Regions from separate parts of the Homo sapiens genome. Here region 2 is linked to region 1. A link means that fine-mapping ties the variant in region 1 to the expression of a gene that starts in the linked region. Tissue or cell type: whole blood. Region 1 holds a variant in brackets; the other region holds the start of a gene. All regions are shown on one strand. Distances are between the middles of the regions.

Evidence for each region. PIP is the estimated chance that this variant, and not a neighbour inherited with it, causes the effect.
Region 2: it holds the start of SUGP2, and the variant in region 1 is fine-mapped to the expression of SUGP2 in whole blood (TOPMed, PIP 0.96).

The regions. Positions count from the first base shown.
Region 1 is chr19:18,976,346-18,986,410 of GRCh38, forward strand. No RefSeq gene overlaps it. Among named protein-coding and RNA genes, the nearest start is that of HOMER3, 40 kb to the left of the region's middle. RefSeq lists an enhancer at 1,745-2,389. The variant C/T (reference allele first, on the strand shown) is at 5,280.
Region 2 is chr19:19,027,956-19,038,020 of GRCh38, forward strand. It overlaps SUGP2 (SURP and G-patch domain containing 2), which reads right to left and starts at 5,562. Exons shown (of 11, transcript NM_001017392.5): 1 at 5,482-5,562; 2 at 2,996-3,127. The coding sequence starts at 3,116. ARMC6 (armadillo repeat containing 6) reads left to right here and starts at 5,648. Exons shown (of 9, transcript NM_001199196.2): 1 at 5,648-5,975; 2 at 6,176-6,283. The coding sequence starts at 6,255. RefSeq lists an enhancer at 4,294-4,795 and silencers at 4,722-4,801, 5,222-5,651.

The DNA.
Region 1 (10,065 bases):
GTCTCTACTAAATACACAAAAATCAGCCGGGCATGGTGGCACGTGCCTGTGGTCCCAGCTACTCAGAACGTTGAGGCAGGAGAATCGCTTGAACCTGGGAGGCAGTGGTTGCAGTGAGCCGAGATCGCGCCCTTGCACTCCAGTCTGGGTGACAGAGTGAGACTCCGTCTAAAAAAAAAAAAAAAAAATTGATCCATTCCATCTTGCATTTTTTTAATAAAGTTTTTTTTTAATTAAAAAACATTTTTTTTTTGGTGGAGATTGGTGTCTTACTATGTTGCCCAGGCTGATCTTGAACTCCTGGACTCAAGTAATCCTCCCACCTCAGCCTCCCAAAGTGCTGGGATTACAGGCTGAGCCACTGCACCCGGCCTTGCAGATGTGGTTAACACCTCCAATCAACTGACCTGAAGTAAAGGAATTTATCCTCCATGACCTTGATGTTTCTTTTTTTTTTTTTTGAAACCAAGTTTCGCTCTTTTTGCCCAGGCTGGAGTGCAATGGCGTGATCTCGGCTAACTGCAACCTCCACCTCCCGGGTTCAAGACATTCTCCTGCCTCAGCCTCCTGAGTAGCTGGGATTACAGGCATGCACCACCATGCCTGGATAATTTTTGCATTTTTAGTAGAGACGGGGTTTCTCCACGTTGGTCAGGCTGGTCTGAAACTCCTGACCTCAGGTGATCCTCCTGCCTCGGCCTCCCAAAGTGTTGGGGTTACAGGCGTGAGCCACTGCACCCAGCCGATGCTTCTTATCTAATCAGTTGAAGTCCTTCAGAGAGCAAAAACAGCTTCTAGAGGGAAAAAGGAATTCGTAAGCTTGCAACAAATAAAGCCTCCCTGTTTCCAACCTGCTAGAGTGCCCTATGAATTTTGGGTTTATCAGCCCCCACGATTGCATGACCCAATTCCTTAAAATACATCTTTTTTTTTTTTGAGAGAGATAGGATCTCTGCCACCCAGGCTGAAGTGCGGTGGTGGGATCATGGCTCACTGCAGCCTCGACCTCCTGGGCTCAAACGATCCACCCACCTCAGCCTCTGGAGTGGCTGGGATCACAGGCACACACCACCATGCCCAAACTTTTTAAAAACTTTTTTGTAAACATGGGATCTTAAACTCCTGGGCTCAAGCAATCTTTCCATGTCAGCCTCCCAAAGTGCTAGGATTCCAGGCGTAAACCACCACGCCCAGACAAAATAAATCTTAAAAAATTTTTTTTTTTTTTAGAGAAAATCTCTTTCTATATATGTAATATGTATATTTCCTGTTGGTTCTGTTTCTCTTGTGAGCCATTACTGATACAGGCACCCAGAGGCCCGGTGATGGGAAGGAGGCGGGGTTACTTTCCAATACATACTCAGGGAATTTCTTTTTTTTCTTTTTTTGAGATGGAGTTTCGCTCTGTCGCCCAAGCTGGAGTGCAGTGTATGGTCTTGGCTCACTGCAAGCTCTGTCTCCTGGGCTCAAGCGATTCTCCTGCCTCAGCCTCTGGAGTAGCTGGGATTACAGGTGCCCGCCACCATGCCTGGCTAATTTTCGTATTTTTAGTGGAGACAGGGTTTTACCATATTGGCGAAGCTGGTCTTGAACTCCTGGTCTCAAGTGATCTGCCTGCCTCAGCCTCCCAAAGTGCTGGGATTACAGGCGTGAGTTACCGCGCCCGGCCACTCAGGGAATTTCTGAGATAGTGACAGCTTCCGGTGGCAGGACCTCAGCTGATTGCCTTGGCCTTTGTCCGCTGAACCCAGGCCAGCTTCCTAGCCTCGGGCGCCACCCAAGACACCTGCAGACCAAGGACACACATTAGAGGCCTTGGGTTTCACGGTCCTGGGCAGGGCCAGGCCTGAGGTGCTGACCAAGCCTGCTACCCTCAACCAAAATAAACCTAGGGCAGGATGCTGCTTGATCAGCCATCCATAGAACACCACAGCCCGAGCCGGGTCACAGATCTGCTTTGGCTGGCCTGCGGACAGGGAGGTCCTCAGCCGCAAAAGGCCTGAGAGGTGGACACATTGGATTTGAAGACCAAAAATGGCCCCCTTCTGGTTGGGTGCAGTGGCTCACACCTGTAATCCCAGCACTTTGGGAGGCTGAAGTGGGCGGATCACTTGAGGTTGGGAATTTGAGACCAGCCTGGCCAACATGGTGAAACCTCGTTCTCTACTAAAAATACAAAAATTAGCCGGGCTTGGTGGCATGTGCCTTGTAGTCCCAGTTACTCGGAAGGCTGAGGCAGAAGAGTCACTTGAGGCTGCAGTTGCAGTGAGCCGAGATCGCACCACTGCACTTCAGTCTGGGTGACAGAGCAAGACTTTGTCTCAAAAAAAAAAAAAAAAAAGGCCCCCTTCGGAGATGTGGGAGTTGGGGGTGGGGGCAGATTTCAAAGCCTGGGGGATTCGATCTGTCATCTGTGCAACCCAGCTGACTATGTGGCTAAAGTTTAACAAGTTTCACAATAACCATTAGACATTGACTGACACTGCCAGGGAAGTGCTCCAGAGATGGGGAAACCCACGTCCACACAAACACCTGTCCACGCGTGTCCACAGCAGCTCTAGTCATGGTTGGCAGAAAGTGGAAACCTCCCCATGCCCATCAGCTGGTGCATGGATAACAGAGTGTGTTCCATCCACACAGGGGGATATGATACAGCCATGGAAAAGAAGGAAGCACTGATCCATGCTACAGCGTGAATGAACCCCCAAAACACGATGCTGAGTGAGAGAAGCCAGACACAAAAGGCCACACAGTGTGAGATTCCATTGATCTGAAATGCCCAGAACAGGCAAATCCATAGACAGGAAGCAGATTGGTGGTTGCCAGGGACTGGTGGAGGGGAATGGGGAGTGACTGCTGATGGAGACAGGTTTCTTTTTGAGGTGATAACAATGAGCCTGGGTGGCTGGGAGTGGTGGCTCACGCCTGTAATCCCTGCACTTTGGGAGGCTGAAGGGGACAGATCACTTGAAGTCAGGAGTTCAAGACCAGCCTAGGCAACATGGCGAAACCCCATCTCTGCTAAAAATGCAAAAATTATCTGGGCTTGGTGGCATGCGCGCATAGTCCCAGCTACTCGGGAGGCTGAGGCAGGAGGATCACTTGAACCCGGGAGGTGGAGGTTGCAGTGAGCCGAGATGGCACCACTGCACTCCAGCCTGGGCAAAAGAGTAAGACCCTGTCTCAAAAACAAACAAACAAACAATTTATTATCATTATTATAATTTAAGATGGCATCTCAAGCGACAGAATGGGCCTTCGTCTCAAAAAAAAAAGAGCCTGAGCAACATAACAAGACCCCGTCTCTGCAAAAATATAAATAAAATTAGCCAGGCGTGCTGGATACACCTGCGGTCCTAGCTATTCAGGAGGCTGAGGTGGGATCGTTTGAGCCCAGGAGGTCGAGGCTGCAATGAACTATCATTGCACCAATGCATTCCAGCCTGAGCGATAGAGTGAGATCCCACCTAAACCGCATTTATTGAGTATCCACTGTGTGCCAGGCACTGAGCTGGGTGCTAGAACAGAGCCCAGAGTGGGAGAAACAGCTATAAACAGACGATCATAGTGCCAGGGGAATGCTTCTTTTTTTTCTTTTTCTTTTTTTTTTTTTCTGTTTTTTTTGAGATGGAGTCTTGCTCTGTCACCCAGGCTGGAGTGCAGTGGCATGACCTCGGCTCCCCGCAACCTCCACCTCTCAAGTTCAAGTGATTCTCCTGCCTCAGCATCCTGAGTAGCTGGGATGACAGGCGCGCGCCACCACGCCTGGCAAATTTTTTTTTTTTTTTTTTTTTGAGACGGAGTCTCACTGTATCGCCCAGGCCGGAGTGCAGTGGTGTGATCTTGGCTCACTGCAAGCTCTGCCTCCCAGGTTCATGCCATTCTCCTGCCTCAACCTCCTGCGTAGCTGGGACTACAGGCACCTGCCACCATGCCCGGCTAATTTTTTGTATTTTTAGTAGAGATGGGGTTTCACCATGTTAGCCAGGATGGTCTTGATCTCCTGACCTCGTGATCTGCCCACCTCGGCCTCCCAAAGTGCTGGGATTACAGAAGTGAGACACCGCGCCTGGCCATTTCTGTATTTTTAGTAGAGACAGGGTTTCACCATGTTGGTCAGGCTGGTCTCAAACTCCTGACCTCGTGATCCGCCCACCTTGGCCTCCCAAAGTGCTGGTATTACAGGCGTGAGCCACCGTGCCCAGCCTGGATGTTTCTCTTATAGCACAGAGAGGGGAGAGATGTAGCATTTTATGAACCTTTGAAGAATGGAGGAGGGGGTGTGGGTGTTGGGTTTTGGGGGATGAATATGAGTTTGCCAAGTTGAAGGTGGGGGCTGACCATGAACTGAACTTTATGGAATCTAACCAACACAACAAAATAAATCTAATTTTCAAAATGAAAATGAAAATGAGCATATTCTCCTTTGTTGGCGTGAACTGCAGGAATGTTTATATGTGGACACTTCACAGGCCAGCCTGCACCAGGCCTGGCTCATGCCGGCCAGTTCCTTCCTGAAGCTATTCATGTCTGCTGCAAAGATGGGATTAAAAACAGCATGTTGGCCTCTTCATTCATTAGGAGAGTGGAGAAATGGGAAAATTTGGGCTGCCCAAACTCCTCATGATCTATGAGGATAAACAGAAAGTTCAACGCCAGCCCTGACTGAGGACCCCCCACAAGGACTTATCTTCTATGTTTTTCTTTTCTTTTTTTGAGATGGAGTCTAGGTCTGTTGCTCAGACTGGAGTGCAGTGGCATGATCTCAGCTCACTGCAACCTCCACCTCCTGGGTTCAAGTGATTCTCCTGCCTCAGCCTCCTGAGTAGCTGGGATTACAGGCTTGTGCCACCACTCCTGGATAATTTTTGTATTTTAGAGATAGGGTTTCGCCACGTTGGCCAGGCTGGTCTCGAACTCCTGACCTCAAGCAATCCGCCCGCCTCGGCCTCTCAAAGTGCTAGGATTACGGGCGTGACCCACCACGCCCAGCCTCCTTGCTCTCTGAATCTGGATCTCACTTTCTGTAAATCCAATGTGACCTTTGGCTGTTTACTGAGTACAAGACGCTCCTGATGACCCATTTTACAGATGAGGAAATTGGGGCTCAGAGAAGGCGAGAGAGCAGAGACTGGGATTCAGTGAGGAGGGTCCCAGGGGGCCTGATGATGATGATGATTATTATTATTATGGAGACTTGCTCTTTTTGCCCAGGCTAGAGCGCAGGGGCGTGATGTCGGCTCACTGCAACCTCTGCCTCCAGGGTTCAAGTGATTCTC[C/T]TGCTTCAGCCTCCTGAGTAGCTGGGATTACAGGTGTGTGCCAGCATGCCCAGTTAATTTTTGGGTAAAGACAGTGTTTCACCATGTTGGCCAGGCTGGTCTTAAACTCCTGACCTCAAATGATCCACCTGCCTCGGCCTCCCAAAGTGCTGGGATTACAGGCATGAGCCACCCGCACCCAGCCAGGCCTGAATTTTTTTAAAGACAGGGTCTTCCTATGTTGTCCAGGCTGAAGTGCAGTGGCACAATCATGGCTCGCTGCAGCTTTGAGCTCCTGGGCTTTAGTGATCCTCTCACCTCAGCTTCTCAAGTAGCTGGAACTACAAGGAATGGGCTACCACACCTGGCTAGATTTTTAAATTTTTTATAGAGACTGGGTCTCCCTATGTTGCCCAGGCTGTTCTCCAACTCCTGGGCTGAAGTGATCCTCCCACTTTGGCCTCCCAAAATGCTGGGATTACAGGTGTGAGCCACTGCACCTGATTGATGGTGAGTTTGAAGTGGAAGGTGTTTGAAGGGGTGAAAGTGTCCATCAGAAAGCAGCTGGCCAGGCGTGGTGGCTCATGCCTGTAATCTCAATCCCAGCACTTTGAGAGGCTGAGGTGGGCGGATCACCTGAGGTCGGGAGTTCAAGACCAGACTGATCAACATGGAGAAACCCCATCTCTACTAAAAACACAAAATTAGCTGGGCATGGTGGCGCATGTCTGTAATCCCAGCTACTCAGGAGGCTGAGGCAGGAGAATCGCTTGAACCCGGGATGCGGAGGTTGTGGTGAGCCGAGATCACGCCATGGCACTCCAGCCTGGGCAACAAGAGCAAAACTCTGTCTCAAAAGAAAAGAAAGCAGCTGAGACCAATATAGCTAAGGAGTGAAGAGCTGGGTTCCGATTCTGATTCTGCCCACTTGCAGGGGCTCTTCCTAGTCCTTCTGTGAACAGCATCTTGTTGTGCTTGGGGTCTTTCCCCCTTCTTAGCCAATGAAGCCCTAGCTATCAGTGTATTGTAGCCCTCTGGCCACTGTGATTGGTTCAGAGACAGGCATATGCCCCGGGCTGGGGCAATAATAGACAATCTTGGTGTCTGTGCCACCCCTATCAGACAACAGAGCTCTTGTGATGTTGCTTAAATGGGTAAGGCTAGGCTCCGAGTTGCTGGCCACCATCTTGCCTGCCTGTAAACAAAGGACAGCAAAGCCAAGAAATAGAGAGAGAGGCTGGTGGTTTTGGTTGAGTGCCTTGATCCAGCTGATCCTGAAGGTGTCCTTTCCAATTCCATCCACCAATTAATTCCCTTTTTGGCTTTATGCAGCCCAAAGAGTTCCCATGTATTCAGCCCTTAGTGCTGCAGAGACAGCACTATAAACATGTCAGTTACTTCATTCATTAGGAGAGCAGAGAAATTGGAAAATTGAGGCTGCCCTCATTGCTGTCTATGAGGATAAACAGAAAGTCAAAGACCAGGCAGGCTGTAGTGGCTCCTGCCTGTAATCTTAGCACTTTAGGAGGCTGAAATAAGCGGATCACTCAAGCCCAACAGTTTGTGACCAGCCTGGGCAACATAGTGGACCCTGTCTCTACAAAAAGAAAAAAAAAAAAAAAATTAGCCAGGCATGGTGGTGCATGCCTGTAGTCCCAGCTACTTGGGAGGCTGAAATGGGAGGATCACCTGAGCTCAGGGAGGTTGAGGCTGCAGTGCCACCGCACTCCAGCCTGGGTGACAGAATGAGACTCTGTCTCAAAAAAAAAAAAACAAAAAAAAAAAACAGCTAAAGACCAGCCCTAAGAACTGAACTTTCTGGAAATGGCTTGGACGTCCCACCTGCCTGCCCCAGAGAGTTGTTAACCAACGTCTCTGGGCCTCAGTTTCCTCGTCTGTAAAGGGAGCTGTGGTTGCCTAAGGTGAAAGGAGCACAGGTGCCAAGCGTTCTTTGCCATGCCTGGCGCTATAAGATATCCAGTGCTATCTAGGGATGCCCCCCGGGTGCCCACCCTGGACTCCTGCTTACTTGGACTTGGATAAAAGAAGGTTTTCTGGCCAGGTGCAGTGGTTCATGCCTGTAATCCCAACACTTTGGGAGGCAGAGGCGGATGGATCATCTGAGGTCAGGAGTTCAAGACCAGCCTGAGCAACATGGTGAAACCCCATCTCTACTAAAAATACAAAAATTAGCCAGGTATGGTGGTGCCTGCCTGTAGTCCTAGCTACTTGGGAGGCTGAGGCAAAATAATTGCTTGAAACTGGGAGGTGGGGGTTACAGGGGGTTGCAGTGAGCCCAGATTGAGCTGCTGTACTCCACCAGCCTGGGCAACAGAGTGAGACTCTGTCTCAAAAAAAAAAAAAAAAAAAAAAAAAAAAAAAAAAGAAGAAGAAGAAGAAGAAGGTTTTCTGCGTTCTGAGGGACTTAGTTGCTCCCAGACATCTCTGCCTCTTGCAACAACCTGCCAAGAACGTGGAGAGCCAGAAAGGAGAGGGTGAACATCTCTGGACTGAAACAGGGAAACTGTCAAAGGCTCTAGAGTAGGCAGGTGGGACGTCCAAGCCAGAAAGGACAGGTTTGCTCTGGGTTCCTTGCAAGTGACCTCCATGGGGTTCGGGGCTGAGACGGAGCCTACAACGTTGTCTAAGGCCACATTTCAGACAACTGCCAGAGAATGGTTGTTTTACCAAATAGCTGGCCAGCACACGGGGTCTATGTCTCTGTGTCTTTTGGCTAGGTTATTCACACCCCACCCTCGTCAGCTGTCAGGGTTACCCTGGGGAATGTCAATTCCAGGCACTTCTGGTTCCAGTGGGCATTCAGGCAAAGGGTGCTCCAGCAGCCCAGGGTAGCCCTGATACCCTGCACAGGTGCCTGCCATTAAATGGGGCTGGAACCGAGGGGTATAGATGGAACAGTTCAGAATTGCTTTCATTCCTGCCCTGCCCTTCCAGACTGCTCTTTTAAAAGGTGTAAATCAGGCCAGGCATGGTGATACATGCCTGTAGTCCCAGCTACTCAGGAGGCTAAGGCTGGAGGATCATTTCAGCCCAGGAGGTCAAGGCTGCAGAGAGCTATGATCATGCCACTGTACTCCAGCCTGGGCTACAGAGTGAGATGCCGTCTTAAAAATAATAATGATAATGATGATAAATTTTTTGTTTGTTTTTGAGACAGAGTCTTACTCTGTCACTCAGGCTGGAGTGCAGTGACGCCATCCCGGCTCGCTGCAACCTCCACTTTCCGGGTTCAAGTGATCTTCTCGCCTCAGCCTCCCGAGTAGCTGGAACTATGTGTGTGTACCACCATGCCTGGCTAATTTTTGTATTTTTAGTACAAACGGAATTTTGCCGTCTTGCCCAGGCTGGTCTCAAACTCCTGACCTCAAGCGATCCGTCTGCCTTGGCCTCCCAAAGTGCTGGGATTACAAGCATGAGCCACCGCACCATGACAAAAGCCCCTCTCTACTAAAAAATACAAAAATTAGCTGGGCATGGTGGCGCGTGCCCATAGTCCCGGCTACTCAGGAGGCTGAGGTGGGAGGATTGCGTGAATCTTGGAGGTGGAGGTTGCAGTAAGCCGAGATGGCACCACTACACTCCAGCCTGGGCGACAGAGTAAGACCCTGTCTCAAAACGAAAACCAACAAATAAAAATGTGTGGTGAATGAATGAATGAATGAATGAGTGAACAGACAAGATGTAAAAAGCCGATCAGAGCCTCTGCCAAGGAGATGTCAGAGGGTTTTTCACAGCAGCCTTTGAACAATGGCCCTGGGAGGAAGCCAGGCTTATTTCCCCATTTGACACAGGAAGAAACTGTCTTGGTTCAAATCTGATCCTTTTTTCTCCTAAGACCACAGCTGCCTCCGAAACAAAGGCCGACAATTGCTGCCAGCAAGTGCTTTGCTGTTTTTACTTCCTCTAAACATTCTTCAGTGGATTTTCCTTTCAAACTGGTTGTAAGGAGGCACATGGCTGGGTGTTGGTGGGGGGTGGCACCCCTGCCCGGACCCCACACGCTTCCCTACCACGTGGCCGGTTTGGAGTAGACCCATCTTTGTGCTGAAACACAGCCCAACATTGCCATATACGGGGGGCTTGTCTACATTTTACAAGATTTTTACAAAAATGATGCTACACTTTGCAAATGGATTTATTTTTTTTGAGACAAGGTCATACTCTGTCACCCAGGCTGGAGTGCAGTGGTACAATCACAGCTCACTGCAGCCTTGACCTCCCGGGCTCAAGTGATCCTTCCTCCTCAGCCTCCCAAGTAGGTGGGACTACAGGCATGTGCCACCATGCCCGGCTAGGGTTTCTTTTTTTTTTAATAGAGATGGGGTCTTGTTACGTTGCCCAGGCTGGCCTTGAATTCCTGGCCTCAAGCAGTGCTCTTTCCTCTCCCTCCTAAAGTGCTGGGATTGCAGGTGTGAGCCACCACGCCCAGCTTGGAACATCTTTATTTTAAGATGAGCATGCTGGGGCCTCAGGGAGTGAAGTGAATTTTCCAAAGTCACTCGTTGTGACCAGGACACTGGAGTCAAGGCCCTTTCATCATGTCATGGGGTCTAGGTAAGGACTCAGGAAACTTCATTTATTTATTTATAGATAGAGTTTTGCTTTTGTAGCCCAGGCTGGAGTACAGTGGTGCGATCTCGGCTCACTGCAACCCCCGCCTCCTGGATTCACGCGATTCTCCTGCTTCGGCCTCCGGAATAGCTGGGATTACAGGCATGCACCACCACACCCAGCTAATTTTTGCATTTTTAGTAGAGACGAGGTTTCACCATGTTGGCCAGGCTGG
Region 2 (10,065 bases), 52 kb after region 1:
CTAGCAGCAGTGGCCTGGCATGAGGAGCCAGACCGTACAGTTACAAAGGGAAGCCTTCCAGGCAGAGGGGGAATGAGGACAAGACCCTGAGGTGGGACCAGTAGGGGGCCAATGTAGACAGAAGGGAACACAGGGAATGAAAGGCCAAGTGGTAGGAAGGCAGCTCCCAAACTCTGCTACTGGAGCCCCAGGGACCACCTCCCCAGACATTCTTACTTAATTAAATAAGGGGATGACCTGGGCATCAGGGTTTTTAAAAGGCCCCCAGGTGACGCTAACGTGCTACAAAGTTAGGGAACCACTAATATAAGAGACACAAATGGAGAAGGAGTACCAGATCCAAGTCGGGCCCTCAGTGGTACTCTGGAATTTACTCTGGGAGAGACAGAAGGCTAGTGAAGAGTTCTAAGCAGAGGGATGATCTCACTGGCTGCTGCACAGGGAACAGATTAAAGGAGATGAGCACAGACGTGGATGTTCCTGCAAGAAATCCACTGTGATAACCCAGGTATTGATGATTGGTATTGATGGCATGATTAGGGAGGGAACATTAGTGACAGAGAGTGATGGCTGGATTCTACTCAAGAGAATTTTCTCATACCCTTTATGAGGAGATGAAAAGTTCAGAGTGGAGCAGAGAAACAGAGAAAGGCTAAACGATAGACTGCTTTGCAACACAGAAATGTTCCAGAATCACCTAGCATACTGCTAGGTTTCTAGTCCTCTCCCACCCACGGCCCCCTAATCTGTCTTTTTTTTTTGAGACGGAGTCTCGTTCTGTCACCCACGCTGGAGCGCAGTGGTGCGATCTCGGCTCACTGCAACCTCCACCTCCTGGGTTCAAGCTATTCTTCTGTCTCAGCCTCCTGGGTAGCTGGGATTATAGGGGCCTGCCACATTTTTGTATTTTTAGTAGACACGGGGTTTCACCATGTTGGCCAGACTGGTCTCAAACTCCTGACCTCAGGTGATCTGCCCACCTTGGCCTCCCAAAGTGCTGAGATTACATGTGTAAGCCACTGCACCTGGCCGTCTTTTTTTGAGACAGGGTCTCACTCTTTGGCCCAGGCTGGAGTATAATGGCACAAACACAGCTTACTGCAGCCTCGACTTCCTGGGCACAAGCGAACTTCCTGCCTCAGCCTCCCAAGTAGCCAGGGCCATAGGCGCATGCCACCATGCCCAGATAAATTTTTTTTTTTTTGAGACGGAGTCTTGCTCTGTCACCCAGGCTGGAGTGCAGTGGCACAACCTTGGCTCGCTGCAACCTCCGCCTCCTGGGTTCACGCCATTCTCCTGCCTCAGCCTCCTGAGTAGCTGGGACTACAGGCGCCCGCCACCACGCCCGGCTAATATTTTTAGTAGAGACAGGGTTTCACCGTGTTAGCCAGGATGGTCTCGATCTCCTGACCTTGTGATCCGCCCGCCTCGGCCTCCCAAAGTGCTAGGATTACAGGCTTGAGCCACTGCGCCCGGCCATTTTTTTTCTTTTTTTTTTTTTGAGATGGAGTCTCGCTCTGTCGCCCAGGCTGGAGTGCAGTAGCGCAATCTTGGCTCACTGCAGGCTCCACCTCCCGGGTTCACGGCATTATCCCGCCTCAGCCTCCCAAGTAGCTGGGACCACAGGCACCCACAACCACACCTGGCTAATTTTTTTTTTTTTTTGATTTTTAGTAAAGACGGGGTTTCACCATTCACAGGATGGTCTCGATCTCCTGACCTTGTGATCCTCCCAGCACTCTGGGAGGCCGAGGCGGGCAGATCACAAGGTCAGGAGTTCAAAACCAGCCTGACCAACATAGTGAAACCCCATCTTTACTAAAATAAATACAAAAAAATTAGCCGGGCATGGTGGCAGGCACCTGTAATCTCAGCTACTCGGGAGGCTGAGGCAGGAGAATCGCTTGAATCCAGGAGGCACAGGCCGCAGTGAGCCAAAATCACGTCACTGCACTCCAGCCTGGGCGACAGTACAAGACTCTGTCTCAAATAAAAAAAAAAAAGAACTAGTAGAGCTTAAACCTGGGCAGCGGTGACAGGGATGGAGCCAGGAAATGGATCCAAGAACCTGTCTTGGGGCTGGGAGCAGTGGCTCACGCCTGTAATCGCAACATGCTGAAGGCAGAGGTGGGAGGATCACTTGAGCCCAGGAGTTGCAGACCAGCCTGAAAACATAGCAAGACTCCATATCTATTAAAAAAAACAAAAAACAAAAAAAACAAAAACATAAAAAACACCAAAAAACAAAACTGGGCTGGGCTCGGTGGCTCATGCCTGTAATCCCAGCATCTTGGGAGGCCAAGGCAAGTGGATCACCTGAGGTCGGGAGTTCGAGACCAGCCTGGCCAACATGGTAAAACCTCATCTCTACTACAAATAGAAAAATTAGCTGGGCGTGGTGGTGCATGCCCGTAATCCCAGCTACTCAGGAGGCTGAGGCAGGAGAATCGCTTGAACCCAGGAGGCGGAGGTTGCAGTGAGCCAAGAGGCGGAGGTTGCAGTGAGCCAAGATCCCTCCATTGCCCTCCAGCCTGGGAGACAAGAGTGAAACTCCGTCTCAAAACAAACAAACAAACAAACAAACAATAAACAAAACTGTCTTGAGGTGGGTCGGGGAGGATATCCAGTGAGAAGCTCCAGATAACTACATAATGATGACTGACAGATCAAAACATTATCCCCTGACCAAGTGCAGTGGCTCATGCCTATAATCCCAGCACTCTGGGAGGCAGAGATGGAAGGATGGCTTGAGCCTAGGAGTTCAAGGGTGCAGTGAGCTAAAACTGCGCCACTGCACTTCAGCCTGGGGGAGAGAGTAAGACCCTATCACAAAAAAGAAACCAAACCAAAATAAAAACCTTTACCTCCTCCTAAATAAGGAAACTAAGGATCAGAGGACTGGTATTATTTGCCCAAGGTATTGTAATCTTCCTGCCTTGGCCCTAAGATACACCCCTACCAAAACAACAACTACAACAACAACACTTTATTTTACCTTGAGCTTTAAACTGAAGAGTTTCGCTTACAGCCTCACCACTGGCATCCATGTGATATCGTTTGGCTTTTTCTTGTAATACAGCATCAAAAGTCTCCTGTGTAATTCGTCTGGCTGCCATGTTATTTTGCCCTATGGTGAGAGAGAAAAAAATACACTAAGAGCAACAACTTGGAGCTGGGCGCGGTGGCTCATACCTGTAATCCTGGCACTTTGGGAGGTCGAGGTGGGCGGATCACCTGAGCTCAGGAGTTCGAGACCAGCCTAGGCAACATGATGAAACTAAAATACAAAAAATTCAGGCTGGGTGTGGTGGCTCACACCTGTAATCCCAGGACTTTGGGAGGCTGAGGTGAGCGGATCATTTAAAGTCAGGAGTTGGAGACCAGCCTGGCCAACATGGCAAAACCCTGTCTCTACTAAAAATACAAAAATTAGCCGGGCATGGTGGTGCCTGCCTTTAATCCCAGCTACTTGGGAGGCTGTGGCAAGAGAATTGCTTGAACCCAGGAGGCGGAGGTTGCAGTGGGCCGAGATCATGCCACTGCACTCCAGCATGGGTAACAGAGTGAGACTCCGTCTCAAAAAAAAAAAAAAAAAAATTTCACCAGGCATGGTGGCACGTGCCTGTAATCCCAAATACTCAGGAGGCTGAGGCATGGGAATTGCTTGAACCAGGGAGACAGAGGTTGCAGTGAGCCGAGATCATGCCACTGCCCTCCAGACTGGGGGACAGAGCGAGACTGTCTCAAAGAAAAAAAAAATGCGTGCTCACAGAACCTGCTCTATTTCACTTAATCCTCGAAGTAAGGAGGCAGTAATCCATAATCCTCGCATGGTACTTCAGAGGCAAGCTGGACCCTTTTTATTTATCTTTTTTTTTTTTTTTTTTAAGTAGAGACAGGGTTTTGCTAGGTTGGCCAGGCTGGTCTCGAACTCCTGACCTCAAGCAATCTGCCCACCTTGTCTGGACTCTTTTAAGGGGGTCTCTGCCCTCACGAAGTTCACAGGTGTGTGCTGGCTGAAAAGGAGCAAGACAAACCTTCTCTGGGCCCATCTCCTTGGAATCCATTAAAAGCAGCTCTGTGAAAGCAGTTCTATCTGCTGGAGGAAGGTGTCAACCAACACACATAACTGAGCATAACAGAGTAGGAAGGGTGGGACCACAACCCTCGCAAATCGTGGTTAGGAAAGAAGAGATCAATCTTTTTTTTTTTTTTCTTCCTTTTTTTGAGACTCTCCCTGTTGCCCAGGCTGGAGTGCAGTGGCATGATCTCGGCTAACTGCAACCTCCGCCTCCTGGACTCAAGCAATTCTCCTGCCTCAGCCTCCTGAGTAGCTGGGATTACAGGAGTCCGCCACCGCATCCGACTAATTTTTATATTTTAGGTAGAGATGGAGTTTCACCATGTTGGCCAGGCTGGTCTTGAATTCCTGACCTCAAGTGATTCGCCCGCTTCGGCCTCCCAAAGTGCTGGGATTCCAGGCCGTGAGCCACTGCGCCTGGCCCAGGATCACTCTTTTCCCATTCACAGACTCAGCAGGGCACAGAGGCTCTGAGAACTTCCTTCCCTTCTAAAAGAAGCCTCTTGACAGTGAGTGGCGGGACCCCCAACCAATGACAATGAACTAGTGACAGTTCATTCTGCGCTGGGTCCTTGCGCGATCTCCCAACCACCCACTGAAGAGGCGGGTCCTGTTATGAATGACATTAGGGTGAGGAGGCAAAGGGAGACAGACTCAACGACCCATTCAAGACCAGACAGCCCAGATTTGAACCTGGCAAAAAGGGTATTCGTGCATCCAAAGCCCCGAAGAATGAGTAAAAAGATTAAGCAACATTTTGGGGTCCAGGGGCTGCATCCTTAACCATCAAGATATCCCGCTTCGCAAAACCTCCAACTTCAAGAGACAACCCGTAGGGTCCATTTCCCATCACGATCACCGCCTCCCCCACCCGCCTCCCCCAGTCCCATCCTTCAGCCCTTTTCCCGGGGCGCCCCCTTGTTCTCTGCTGGCAAAGGGCAGGGTTCCCGGGTCAGGTGACCCAGGTTCAAATCACACGATTCTAAGCTTTCTGTGCTTCCGTTTCCCCACCTATGGAATGGGCAGCCAGTAAAGGGGCTGGTGTGGGGGCTGAACCGGTTCTAAAGAGGGCAAGGGCCCGATGCAGCGCTGGGCGCCGTTATCTCCTCCCGAGCGGGGGCCGCTCCGAGTTCGGGAGGAATGAATGAACGACTGAACCAATGAGCCTTTGTGGACGCGGCCCGCCGTCTCCCGGCCTCTGCGGGCGAGGAAATGGGGGCGCCGGGCCCGGGAGGCCGCAGCCGGCCACCCAGGCCAACCCGGCGGGGACGCGGCCGCCGCCGCAGCCAGAGGGCCGAGCCTGCGACGCCATCACGGAGCCCGGGGCGGGCCCCCAAGGCCGAGCCCGAGCTTCCCACCCCGGGAGCCACCCACCGACGACGCCAGGGCCCGGGCCTCACCCCGAGACCACCGCGCGCGGAGCCACCCCCGCCGCCGCCTCAGGCTCCTCACCCGCCGCCGCCGCCGCGCGAGGCGGGGACATGCAAATGAACCAACGGTCTCCGCAGCGCCGCGCCGCGCAGGCGCAAGCCGCCGCCGAGTCCTGGTGCGCAGGCGCGGGCCGCCGCGGCCCGGCTCTCTTGCGCAAGCGCGCTGTCCGCTTCTTCTGGGCGGACGCTCTGGAGGCAAAACATTTCCCTGCTGGGGGCGGCGACCACCGTGAGCGTCCCGGAAGGGGCGGCAAAGACGCCTCCGTCGCGCACGAGGTGGCCTCGTTGGCTTTACCTTGGTTCGCGGTCGTCCTTGGTTATCGTGAGCGTCCGCGAGTCTCTGGGAGGCCAAGCCTAGGGGCGCCACAGCGCCTGCGCGCGTACGGCGGCCGGAAGGGGCTAGAGGCGGCTCCCTGGGTGACAACCGCGCGCCCCACCTTTCCCCACGTGGCCGCGAAGACCGGGTGAGACGCTGCGGCTGCCGAGGCCTGTCCCGCGCGGAGTGGGGAGTGGGGGTGCCGCAGGGTCGGGCTGGCGCGACCCTCGGGTACGTGGTTTGGGGGGAAAAAAAAAATGAAAGAATTTTACAGAAGCCGCCTGGGGACAAAATCCTCGGCTTCCCTGGCATTCGCTTTATTTTCATTCATTTTATTTATTCATTCAGCACCTGTGCACTGAGTGCCTGCTGCGTGTCGGGCCCCGTCCTAGGCAGTGGGGACAAGGAGGCTACAGGGTACAAATAAATGAGTGAACGATGTTGCTCTAGATACAGGTAATGGTGTGCAAATAATAACAGAGTGATGGGACGGGAAAGCAGGGCTGCTCTTTATCTAGAAGTGGTTTTGAAGGCTGTCTCTTGAGTGCTGGGAAGGATGAGAAAGGCGGGGAAGAGGAACTTGGAAGGCTTAGATAGAGAAGGTGCGGATAAGGAGGCTGGGTTTTGTTCTGAGAGGGTTGGGAAGCCACTACCGGGCTTTGAGCACGTGAGTGAGGTGGAGTCTAGGCTCTGGGAGTGGCAGGTGACGCCGCCCTTAGGGGAGGCTGGTGTTTGAACCAGAGTGGGTGTGGCTGGTAGAGGGACATGTGGATGGAGTCTTTTAGAGTCCCCAGCATGTCATGGCACACGTTTAATTTTCTTTTGAGACGGAGTCTTTCTCTGTCGCCCAGGCTAGAGTGTAGTGGCATGATCTTGACTCACTGCAACCTCCACCTCCCGGGTTCAAGGGCTTCCCCTGCCTCAGCCTCCCGAGTAGCTGGGACTACAGGTGCGCAACACCGCACCTGGCTAAATTTTGTATTTTTTTTTTTTTTGAAACGGAGTCAAAAGGAGTTCAAGCGATCTCCTGCCTCAGCCTCCTGAGTAGCTGGGATTACCGGTGTGCACTATCTTGCCTGGCCTTTTTTTTTTTTTTTGAGACGGAGTCTCGTTCTGTCACCCAGGCTGGAGTGCAGTGGCGCAATCTCAGCTCACTGCAAGCTCCGTCTCCTGGGTTCAGGCCATTCTCCTGCCTCAGCCTCCCGAGTAGCTGGAAATACAGGCACCCGCCACCACGCCCGGCTAGTTTTTTTGTATTTTTTTAGTAGAGACGGGGTTTCACCGTGTTAGCCAGGATGGTCTTGATCTCCTGACCTCATGATCCGCCCGCTTCGGCCTCCCAAAGTGCTGGGATTACAGGCGTGAGCCACCGTGCCCGGCCCTGGCTAATTTTTTGTATTTTCAGTAGAGACAGGATTTTGCTATGTTGGCCAGGCTGTTCTCAAACTCCTGACCTCAAGTGATCTACCCGCCTCAGACTCCCAAAGCGCTGGGATTATAGGCCTGAGCCACCGCACCTGGACAGCACAGTTTTCTTGATGAGCAGATTCCTGGCTGAGAGAAGGAAACTGGCTGCCAGTTAGGGGCCTTACTCATCTTCTGTTTTACCCTCAGCATGCCCTGATGGATAATAGGGACTGGTAATGCTGCTTCCCCCTTTTAGCCTAGGCTGTTCTCCAGGTAATTCTTACTTGGCCATCTCCAGGCACCATCTTATGTGTTCCAAATCTGTACTTTCCTCCTCCAACTCAGCCCTGTACCAGATCTAGGGGACCTTGGAGGACTCAGGTCAGGGGTGGTCACAGAGCCAGACCTTCCCAACTCAGTCAGCTCAGGGGTGGGTGGAAGGGAGGGGTTGTGGGTTGGGGAGTGAAGCCAGAGAGTGTGGGCTCTCTGAGTGGCCAGGAAAGGCAGCCACCTGGAAGGGCTGGCAGAAGCTCCACAGAGGACTGAGAATCCGAAGTATTTGAGACAGGTGTCAATCAGTTAGAAAGCTTATTTTGCCAAGGTTAAGGACATGTCTGTGACACAGCCTCAGGAGGTCCTGACAACATGTACCCAAGGTGGTTGGGGCACAGCTTGCTTTTATACATTTTAGGGAGACGTGAGATATAAATGAATATGTGTAAGATGGTCACAGGTAGAGACAAATGATTGCTTTCTTTTGAGTCTTTGGTCAGCCTTTCACAGAATACACGATTTATATGGGGTACAGGGCAGGTAGAGGAATAGTCATTTATGCCTCAGTCCGACTCATGAATCTGAGGTTTTGTTTCTTGTTTTTTGTTTTATTTTTTGAGATAGAGTCTCGCTCTGTCGCCCAGGCTGGAGTGCAATGGCGCAATCTTGGCTCACTGCAACCTCCACCTCCCGGGTTCAAGCAATTCTCTTGCCTCAGCCTCCTGAGTAGCTAGGATTACAGGCGCCCACTACCACGCCCAGTTAATTTTTATATTTTTAGTAGAGACGGGGTTTCGCCATGTTGGTCAGGCTGGTCTCGAATTCCTGACCTCAGGTGATCCACCGGTGTCAGCCTCCCAAAATGCTGGGATTACAGGCATGAGCCACGGAGCCAGGCCAAATCTGCATTTTTACATAAACGTTAGGGCAGAGAGAGCAACTGGATATGCATTTGTCTCAGGTGATGACTTTCTGTCCTGCACTTGTGAAGATCACCTGTCAATTTACATTGCCAGGGTGACATTCAACAAAATTGTTTTCAGGTAAAGATCTTGAGGGCCACAAGGAATTTCCTGGCCTGGCCGGGGTGGTGGGAGTGGAGTCCCCTACTCCTTACTCCCTACTGAGAAACTCTTTATATTACTCTTCCTTCACCTTTAACCTTGGAAATCCATAGCAGCCCTTAAAGAGCTCCCTTTTCTTCTGGGGCAGAAAGGAGAGGGGCCTATCTGCAAAAGAGTGAGATGGGACTCCTGCATAAACTTGCTGAATTGCCTCTTAAGCAACAAAGGAAAGGAACAAATAGCTAATTTATTGAGCCTGTCCATATCCTGTTCTGAGGAAGGTATAGGAGTTGGCTGAATTTTTCACTACTGCCCTATGAAGTAGATTCGTGTTTATCTCTGTTTGACACATGAGGGAATTGAAGAAAAGTGTATCTGGCTGGGCGTGGTGGCTCATGCCTGTAATCCCAGCATGATGGGAGGCCGAGGCAGGTGGGTCACCTGAGGTCAGGAGTTCGAGACTAGCCTGGCCAACATGGTGAAACCCTGTCTCTACTAAAAATACGAAAATTAGCTGGGCGTGGTGGCGTGGGCCTGTAGTCTCAGCTACTTGGAGGCTGAGGCACAAGAATCGCTTGAACCCAGGAGGCAGAGGTTGTGGTGAGCCAAGATCGTGCCACTGCATTCCAACCTGGGCGACAGAGCGAGACTCTGTCTCAAAAAAAAAAGAAAAGGGCATTGAAGTGGAGGGCATGGGAACTGGGTTCTGCAGGCTGGCTGCGAGCCAGTCCTTCTCCCGTCAGGCAGTGTGCAGTCCATGGTGGGCATCTGCAGGAACACAGATGGAATGTGTATATCCCATGCCACTGCCTGAAAAGAGAAGCATGGGCCAGAGTGACCTGTTTCTTTTTCCTTTTTTTTTTTTTTTGAGACAAGGTCTTACTTTGTCACCCAGGCTGGAGTTCAGGGATATGATCTCAGCTCACTGCAGCCTTGACCTCCCTGGGCTCCCACCTCAGCCTCCCAAATAGCTGTAACTACAGGTGCATGCTCCCACACCTGGCTAATTTTGGTATTTTTTATAGAGATGGAGTTTCGCCACGTGTCCAGGCTGGTCTCAAACTCCTGGCCTCATGTGATCCTTCCGCCTCGGCCTCCCAAAGTGCAGGCCACCATGCCTGGCCTGAAGTGGAAACTTGATAATTCCAGAACGGAAACTTGATATTACTGCAATAAGCAAGGTGGATATATTGAAACAATTAAAATTTAAAAAGTTGTTAACCTCTGTTAGGCTCTGGACCTAAGGCCTGTTCCTCCTTTTGTTCCAAAGGGACGGTGGCAAATGTTAGGTTCACTCGTACCCTGTCAAGACCTTCTGGTTAAGATCATCTACAGCAGGGGTCCCCAATTCCTGGGTCACAGACCCATACTGGTCCAGTGGTCCCTGGCCTGTTAGGACCTGGGCTGCACAGCAGGAGGCAAGCGTAGGGTGAGCGAGTGAAGCTTCATCTGTATTTACAGCAACTCCCCATCACTTGCATTATGCCTGAGCTC